Homo sapiens: one gene and its partner. The protein of the gene in region 2 interacts with the protein of the main gene of each other region in a biochemical or structural test. Each region holds a gene or a part of one and is shown on either strand. Other genes may lie near its edges.

Evidence for each region. Proteins that work in one complex are often made in the same cells at the same time.
Region 1: the proteins of GOLM2 (region 2) and GOLPH3L form a complex in vitro, tested with the Homo sapiens proteins (one study listed by BioGRID).

What each region holds. Positions count from the first base shown.
Region 1 is NC_000001.11:150,645,730-150,648,942, reverse strand, and holds the end of GOLPH3L (Golgi phosphoprotein 3-like), read left to right. Parts: intron 1-194; coding exon 195-622; 3' UTR 623-2,713; downstream 2,714-3,213. UniProt on the Homo sapiens protein: Phosphatidylinositol-4-phosphate-binding protein that may antagonize the action of GOLPH3 which is required for the process of vesicle budding at the Golgi and anterograde transport to the plasma membrane.
Region 2 is NC_000015.10:44,287,087-44,293,179, forward strand, and holds the start of GOLM2 (protein GOLM2), read left to right. Parts: upstream 1-1,632; 5' UTR 1,633-1,943; coding exon 1,944-2,270; intron 2,271-6,093.

The DNA of each region.
Region 1 (3,213 bases), on a different chromosome or scaffold from region 2:
ACATTTTTTGAAGCTGGTTTAATGTGAAATGTGGTTGGAGTCAAAGCCAGATTATAAAGGACTAAGGATTAAATGAATTGAGGAATGAAGATTATGCTTTTAAACATTTTAGCCATTCAAGTTTCCAAACAACTACATGTTTCATTTTGCTTTTCTCTTTCAGTTCATTATGTCCTATTTCTTTTTTCTCATAGGTGAGACCTGGAACCCCTTCAAATTACAGTACCAGCTGAGAAATGTACGAGAGCGCATCGCAAAGAACCTAGTAGAGAAAGGTATTCTAACCACTGAGAAGCAGAATTTCCTGCTATTTGACATGACTACTCATCCAGTGACCAATACAACAGAGAAACAGCGACTAGTGAAAAAACTTCAAGATAGTGTACTAGAGCGGTGGGTAAATGACCCTCAGCGTATGGACAAGCGAACACTAGCACTCCTGGTGCTAGCCCACTCCTCTGATGTGCTAGAGAATGTCTTCTCCTCTCTGACAGATGACAAGTATGATGTGGCAATGAATCGAGCCAAGGACTTAGTAGAACTGGACCCTGAAGTGGAAGGGACAAAGCCTAGTGCCACAGAAATGATCTGGGCTGTGCTGGCAGCCTTCAATAAATCTTAAAGCCGGCAGGTGGATTTCTCCTTTTCCCCTGCTGGCTGGTGACTGTCAGAGACCCCATCACTGAGTTTTGTGTGATGAGATGTTTTCATCATTTTTGTTTCCTTTTCTTGAATCAGACTTGTGATTTGGGGAGAGCAACTTCAGGGCTTCTCCATAGACCTTGACCATTATAAGCAGACCTTATTTCTCCCTACACTTCCACTCCATAGGTAAATAAACTGGGTGAAGCCACACACACCCAATGAACATTTTCTCCCATTTGGTGGTTTAGTTTCACCCAGTGTGCTTTTGGATAAGCAGAAATATCTAAATGGGATTTTGAGTTCTCCAGCTATAGAATGTGAATGAGATAAAAAGTGAACTATCTATTATATTTTTCTGAGTTTGTTTTCTATCATAAATACATGTTTTCACAGCCTTTGTCTCTCAGACTCTGCTAAATAATGTAGCTTATTGAAATAACTGTCGCTGAATAAGGAGCAATGAGAAACAAAACTAATTTTTGGAGCAGATGGTCTCTGGAATTGCATATCCTGCTAGTGATTTTCTCATCTTTCCTTTTCTAACCTAATGAGAATGTCCCAGATTCAATTACCTGGATGTCAAAGTCCTAGAGCCAGAAATATATTCTCTCATCCCTCTTAGCATTCTCTTGCTCCCTCATTCACTAGGGCAAATGTCTAAATGAAGAAAAGTCTCTCTCAACACCTCGTTCATGCAATCAGCATTAGAATTTGTAAGGAAGGAAGGGGGGTGGCATGAAAATTTCCATTCTTGGGGTATATGACTGTCCTGTTTCCCCCAGGCCACTTTTTTTTTTTTTTTCTTTTGAGACAGGGTCTTGCTCTTGCCCAGGCAGGAGTACAGTAGTGCAATCACAGCTGACTGCAGCCTTGACCTCCAGGGCTCAAGGATCCTCCTGCCTCAGTCTCCCAACTAAGTGGGACTACAGGCACGTGCCACCATACTCAGCTTTTTTTTGTTTGTTTTAGACAAGAGTCTCGCTTTGTTGCCCAGGCTGGTCTTGAATTCCTGGGCTCAAGCAATTCTTCCACCTCAGCCTCCCAAAGTGCTGAGATTACTGGCTTGAGCCACTGCACCCACCCCTCCAGACTACTTTAAATGTCTCTGCTCTGACTGAATTGAAGGAATTGTAAGTTTCAGTTGCTGAATATATCAGTATATCTGAACTCCAGATCTTTTTATTTCCTATTTTTGGCTTCCTACATAAATTAATAAAGTCTGTCTATATTTAAGGTTTCTGGGAGTAGTTTTGTCTATATTTAATCCATAGATGTGCTCCTAGTCATCAGTCTTATTTCAGTAAAACCATCTTTCTGGCCAAATCTCTAACACGTTTTTTACTTCAGTAGTGAGGGCAATGAGAAGCTTTATTAAGAAAGATCCTATTTAAAGGGCTAATTTGGTATTGAAAGCATGCTGATATAAAGTCCAGTATTTGAGGATATAAAGAGGATGTGCACTGAGCTGTGCTGATGTTCAGCATTTATTATACTTTAATGGGATAGTGCTTCTTGACCATTATAGAACAACAAACTGTCAAAGGGTTAATACAGATGACCCAGACCTGACATTAAATCCTCTTGATTAGAAATAATTAAATGAATTATTTATTCATTTCTCTCCTCTGCCAAATCTACTTAGCCCCACAAAAATGCCCCAGCTCAGTTAACATTTTTTTGTTTTTCACTTTAGGTATCTCTTAGGCAAATAGAGATATAAATTGTAATAGGAAACAGTCTCTAAATGTGAGGCTGAATACAGCTTCAGTCTGGCTCTCTAATAGGACAAAAGCCAGTCCATGTGTTGTCTCTAACTGATTTAGCTTTTTCTTTTCTTTGAACAATTCGGCATGAATTGAAACCAGGTTTTCCTGTGGAAAGTTATAGCTTGATTGGGAGATAGAAGTTGAATTGAGTTCTTTCTTGCAACTCTTAGTGTTTATTTTTATATCTCAGTAAGACGAGGATACCTTCAGTTTGAATCTGCATAATGTTCACTGCCAAACTCCTTCTCATTTAATGCTTATGGCCTTCACATTTCTGTATAATAAAGATCAATTATCAGCTCTCTGGTCTCTCTGTGCACAATTTTATAATTTAAATTGTTTTAATTGGAACTAAGGACTTTCTACACAAGGCTATTAATGCCTCCCCCTTTACACTAGCATACCAGCTTGTTTTATCCTATGTAGAAAATGAGGGATACAAAAACAATTGTAACATACATAGGCTGAGGGGCAGGACATGTCAAAAGCTGACCACATGAACACCAGCTAATACTATAAAGCCTAAATAGTGTCTCCATCTCAATCAAAATAAATTAGCCAATTATACCATTATTACCATGAAGAGAATGAATATGATCTGTTCTACTAATATCTACTTGCAAATGACACCTGAATTTAGGAGTTGAAAATCTTAAGTTCCAAATGTAGGTGACATGCCTGACTATAACAGAGTTAACATGTAAAAATGTAAGTGTGCTTATAATTGGCTTATTGTTCTCCCTTTCTTTATCTATAGCACAAGGGACAATAATACATTTGTTTATTAGGATTGTTTATACTT
Region 2 (6,093 bases):
AGGAAAGCAGAGATGGAAAGGCTCTTTATAGTTAATGATTTCTCATTTTTGCTTTGCTTCCTTTTGCCAAAGTCGGCTTGTCATCTGAGAGTGGAGAGGATTTGTTAGATCTTATGAAGCCAGAGCTCACTTCTGATGTGAACCAAGTATTAATAATTTTGGTGGTGGTTTTCTGTACTGCATCTGAGAGAGTAATCATTGTTCTTTGAAGATGCAATAATTCTACGCTACTACGGGACTTAGGGAAATAATTTTTGAGGATAGGAAGCACAGAATAATTAAGATGACAAGTCTTCCTGCCTCAAAATCATATCACTCTGATTCGAATAAAAAATACCAAGGTTTTTCCTTCTTGAGGTTTTATACTCATGGAAGTTCTTCAACCTGAGGTCTGAAAAATAAGGCAACCCCATCCTCTCCTTAAACAGGTTAGAGCCAGTACCTTTTTATTTCTCTATGCACGGACAAAATAATTATGCAAAAAAAAAAAAGAGGCAGGTTTTGTTTTTTTTTTTGCACTACTGAAATTCACACTTAACATATAAACAATCTGCTATATGCAGACAGCACTGGTGTTTAGAGTTCAATGATCTGGATTCAAGCCTATTTAAAACCAGATAAGAGAAAGTTCCCAAACATCTATGTGTCTTGGATTCTTCATCTGTAAAATTGCGTTGTTGAGAAGATAATATGAGACTAGGCGCGCAAAACAATTTGTTAGAGCTATTATTTCTAACCCGGAATGTGTTCGCTGGCAGTAACAGTGCATTAGTTACGATTCATCGAGGGCAGCTTCTGGACTTTCTGTTTGGAAGCCCAGCTGAGGCAAAAGCAGCAGTGCGTTTAAAAATTGGAGCTCGCCACATTCTGAAATTCTTTCGGTTCGTGAAAGCAGTAACCTAGGAAACGAGACTGGCACCACCCCTTTCAGTCCTAAAGCTTGGTTTCTCCCGCTTTTCTCCATTATGTTTAGGGCATCGCTATTTTACAGTCTTTTTGTTTTTTCTTTCCACATCATTAGCACAAAAGAGAAATTCCCCTTCTACAGAAGCAAGTACAAAACCTTTCTAGTCGCTCCTTTTTGGCAGCAGCTCACCTACTATTTTTTTCTATTCCGCGGTCGCAGCCCCAGACGTCCTCAAAGACAAATATTTTCGCGAGGGCCAGTGTAGGGCAGGAACTCCCTAGGCCTTGAATCAAGGGAATCCAGTAGATAACAACAGAAAGGACTCCGACCCAGGTACCTGAGACATCTGAGACCGCCAAAATTAACACAACACCCTACGCGACAGAGAAAACTCTGGGCGGGGAGAGAGAAAGAGAGCGAGCGAGCGAGAGAGAGAGAGAGCGAGAGAGAGAGAGAGAGAGAGAGAGAGAGAGAGAGAGAGAGAGAGAAAGAGAGCGAGCGAGAGAGAGCGAGAGAGCGAGAGAGCGAGAGAGCGAGAGAGCGAGAGAGAGAGAGAGAGAGAGAGAGAGAGAGAGAGAGAGAGAGAGAGAGAGAGAGAGACGAGAGGAAGCAACGTTCTCGCGACAAGAGGGGTGTCGACGGAAACTCGGAAATGGTCCCCTAGACGACCCGGCCCCAGCTAGTGGGTGGGGCCAGGGTACATCCGCCCCTTTCCGGTTTTTTTCCCCGCCTCCCAACCGTGAGGTGTTGGGTTTGGGGGACGCTGGCAGCTGGGTTCTCCCGGTTCCCTTGGGCAGGTGCAGGGTCGGGTTCAAAGCCTCCGGAACGCGTTTTGGCCTGATTTGAGGAGGGGGGCGGGGAGGGACCTGCGGCTTGCGGCCCCGCCCCCTTCTCCGGCTCGCAGCCGACCGGTAAGCCCGCCTCCTCCCTCGGCCGGCCCTGGGGCCGTGTCCGCCGGGCAACTCCAGCCGAGGCCTGGGCTTCTGCCTGCAGGTGTCTGCGGCGAGGCCCCTAGGGTACAGCCCGATTTGGCCCCATGGTGGGTTTCGGGGCCAACCGGCGGGCTGGCCGCCTGCCCTCTCTCGTGCTGGTGGTGCTGCTGGTGGTGATCGTCGTCCTCGCCTTCAACTACTGGAGCATCTCCTCCCGCCACGTCCTGCTTCAGGAGGAGGTGGCCGAGCTGCAGGGCCAGGTCCAGCGCACCGAAGTGGCCCGCGGGCGGCTGGAAAAGCGCAATTCGGACCTCTTGCTGTTGGTGGACACGCACAAGAAACAGATCGACCAGAAGGAGGCCGACTACGGCCGCCTCAGCAGCCGGCTGCAGGCCAGAGAGGGCCTCGGGAAGAGATGCGAGGATGACAAGGTAAGGACGACCCTTTTCTCTTCAAACCCCATGGTTTCTTTTCTCCCCGGGGTCTGGGGCGGGATGTTAATCCGCTAGCTGTTGTCTTATGCCTTCCAGTATTTCAGTCCTGAAGGCTCCTTTCACCCCCAACAACCCTGTTTCTGTCAGACTTTTCCCAGTTTATCAGTGCCACGTTCTCTGGTCCCTGCCAGAAAAAAATGACTGTAAATTCTGGTTCTCAAGAGTGGACTGTGTGCAGATGCTGCCTATTCTCTAAGCTCAGCTGGTGAGTTGGCAGTAGTAATCATCTGGCCTGTGTGGCCCCCTTACCTTCAAAGACACACAAATCTGGCGACTGCCAGGTTTGGTGTGGTTATTGTCTCATTTTTATTCCGTGCACACTGATCAATATTAATTTCGTTATTTAAAGAACGAAGCCGCCTCTGACTCCTCTACTTATGGTAGTCATCATATATTTTTTAAGCTGTGTGACTTTTAAAATCTCTATAGGGTGATGTATTGAATAACTAAATAATCAGCTATGACTGCCTTTTTGTGATCAAAATGTTATGATAGATGGGCCCTCGAGCTATATGTGAGACACACTTGTGTCTTGGACATAGTTGATCCATCATTATCTACTCAATTTGAATTGTTAATGAAATCAGCCAAAAGATTAGAATCTGAAAATAAATTTTAAGCAGTGGAATGTCATGTCAGTGTCTTCATTGAAAGAAAATAGAATGAAATTTTGTATAGCTAAGTTGCTATTAGGGTTGGTGTTTTATGCAGATGGAAAACTATACAAAGTTTTAAATATAAAAAGTTTAAAATTGAACTGTAATCATACTTGCTACTAAATAATCCTTGTTTTCATTAGCTCATTGGTAACTATATTAATAGTTTATGACTTAGCAACTTCTGTAGGTATAGTAGAGTTATGAAAATTTCTGGGCAGGATAGTAGATGCCTTTCTATACACTTCTTTGGTAATCTTCACATTTTTGTGTGTAAATGCCCATTATAATTACAAGTTTTACTTTGCATATCAAAATCACTTAAGGGTAAGTCATTATGAATTAAACTGTCTGTGAGCTTCTAACTTTCCTGTTGACAGCCTCTACCTGGCTTTCTTATTTCATGAAGATTAAGGCCCTCAGCTAAGTGCTTCCCTATAACCCCCTCCTCTTCACCATAACATAGACATGCTATGATAGGGTCAAGGAATCAGTACATTTATATGTGCGCTGCATGCTTAACTCTAAAGACTGAAAAACTCTCGGGCAGAGTAGGTAGAAATCCATGAAAGTTTGGAGTATTAAAGTAAGGTCTTCCTACTTGGCATGGTTGAGCATTACAATTCACATTCTTCTCTCTGGTCTCAAAGGAAAGTCTCTTGTTGTAATTAATACTCTTGATTCCATTCTTTCATCCATTGGACTTTTTGTTGTTGTCGTTGTTGTTGTTGTTGTTGTTTTTTGAGACGGAGTTTTGTTTTTGTTGCCCAGGCAGGAGTGCAATGGCGTGATCTCAGCTCACTGCAACCTCCGCCCCCCCGGGGTTCAAGCAATTCTCCTGCTTCAGCCTCCTGAGTAGCTGGGATTACAGGCATGCACCACCACGCCTGGCTAATTTTGTATTTTTAGTAGAGAAGGGGTTTCTCAATGTTGGTCAGGCTGGTCTTGAACTACCAACCTCAGGTGATCCGCCCGCCTCAGCCTCCCAAAGTGCTGGGATTACAGGTGTGAGCCACCATGCCCAGCCTCTTTTTTTTTTTTTTTTTTTAAAGAGACAGGGTCTCATTGTGTTGCCCAGGCTGGAGTGCAGTAGCTGTTACACAGGCATGATGCACTATAGCATTGAAATCCTGAGCTCAAGTGATCCTCCTGCTTCAGCCTCTGAGTAGCTGGGACTGCAGGTGTGCACCACCTTGCCCAGCTCTACTGAACTGTCTCTTTCAGTTTGTTTCACTTTTTACCTTCAACAGTATGTGGGTGTCCCCTGTTCTCAGTAAAGGAAAAAAAATCTGTATATTCCTTTCTCCCAACCAACCCATTTGTTTTTTCACTTTCATTGCTAAAGTCAAATTATTGATGGTCTACAAATGTTCCATCTACCTATTTTTTCATAACCATCCTAATCTTAAAATGTCTGCCATCTTTCTTTCCTCCCCTTTTTTGAAACTATTCTCTTGAAGGTCACAAATGGCAGTCTTCCTAGTCAAAACCAAAGAATATTTTTATTCTTACTGTATTTGACCTCCCAGTAGTTTGATCCTGTTGATTGTCTCTAGCTATTTGGAAACTATTTTCTTTCTTGCTTCTGTTATACTGGACTCTCCAGTCTTATCTTCTTCACTATATTCTTTGCTGGATTTATTTTTTCTTTCCAGTCACCTAGTAAGGGACTCTGTTATTGAGCCTTTGCTCTCCCATAAGAGCAGTATTCCCCAAAGTAGTGTTAAACAGAATACCCTTCTTGTAATATTTCTTAGGTGGTGAGGAGAAAAAAATGAAAACCTTTTTTGGAGGGAAATGTTAGTGTATCCTCCTCTTGGAATTCATAATGCCTGCTGGAATATAAAAGCTCTGAGAAATCCATTAATAAAGAAGGCTATTCAATTTTGTTTAACTCAGTCTTGTTTAGTTTATTTGATCACAGGTTACTATTTTCATGGCCTACCTATTATGGCACAGAATAATATAGCAAAGCCCACTAGTTTGGGAAATATTGCCCTGGGTATCTTAACTACTTTTAAGTGTTTGGCTAATATTTTATGCAGCTGGCTCACAAGACTGTATCTCTTATTGAATGTCAGTTCTGTGTGTGTATATGTGTATACATACATATATATATATATATATTTTTTTTTTTTTTTAGACAGAGTCTCGCTCGGTTAAGCAGGCTGGAGTACAGTGGTGTGATCTCGGCTCACTGCAAGCTCCGCCTCCTGGGTTCACGCCATTCTCTGCTTCAGCCTCCTGAGTAGCTGGGACTACAGGCGCCCACCTCCATGCCCGGCTAATTTTTTGTATTTTTAGTAGAGATGGGGTTTCACCATGTTAGCCAAGATGGTCTCGATCTCCTGACCTCGTGATCCACCAGCCTTGGCCTCCCAAAGTGCTGAGATTACAGGCGTGAGCCACCGCACCCGGCTAGTTCTGTATATTTTTAAAAGTTTTTTCTTTTTTTAGTTTTGTAGAGATAGGGTGTTGCTATGTTGCCCAGGCTGCTTTCAAACTCCTGGCTCCAAGTGATCTTGCCTTGGGCTCACAAAGTGCTGGGATTCTAGGTGTGTGCCACAGCACTTGGTGTGCCACTTCTGTATTTTGAGCTGGCTATAACAACTTTCTTGGGCTGCTTGTGAATGTCTGTTCTTGGGGTTAATGAGGACTCTCTGAGCTGCTTAGTAGAAAGGGTAGTCTTGGTCTCTGTATTTTAAACTTAACAGTTTTTCAGGGTTTTTTTTATTGTTATTGTTGTTTGTTTGTTTTGAGACAGGGTCTTGCTCTGTCACCCAGGCTGGAGAGCAGTGGTGCGATCATAGTTTACTACAGCCTCAAACTCCTGGGCTCAAGCGATCCTCCCACCTCGGCCTCCCAAGTAGCTGGGACTATAGGTGCATGCCACCATGATGGTCTAATTTTTTATTTTTTGGTAGAGATGAGGGTCTTATTATCTTGTCCAGGCTGGTCTCCAGTTCCTGGCCTGAAGTGATCCTCCTGCCTTGGCCTTCTAAAGTGCTGGGTGTGAGCCACCATACTTGGCCACTTAACAGTTTTAGATCTGGAAAATTATTGGAAAATTAGATCTGGAAAACTAAACAAGTGATCCTCCTGCC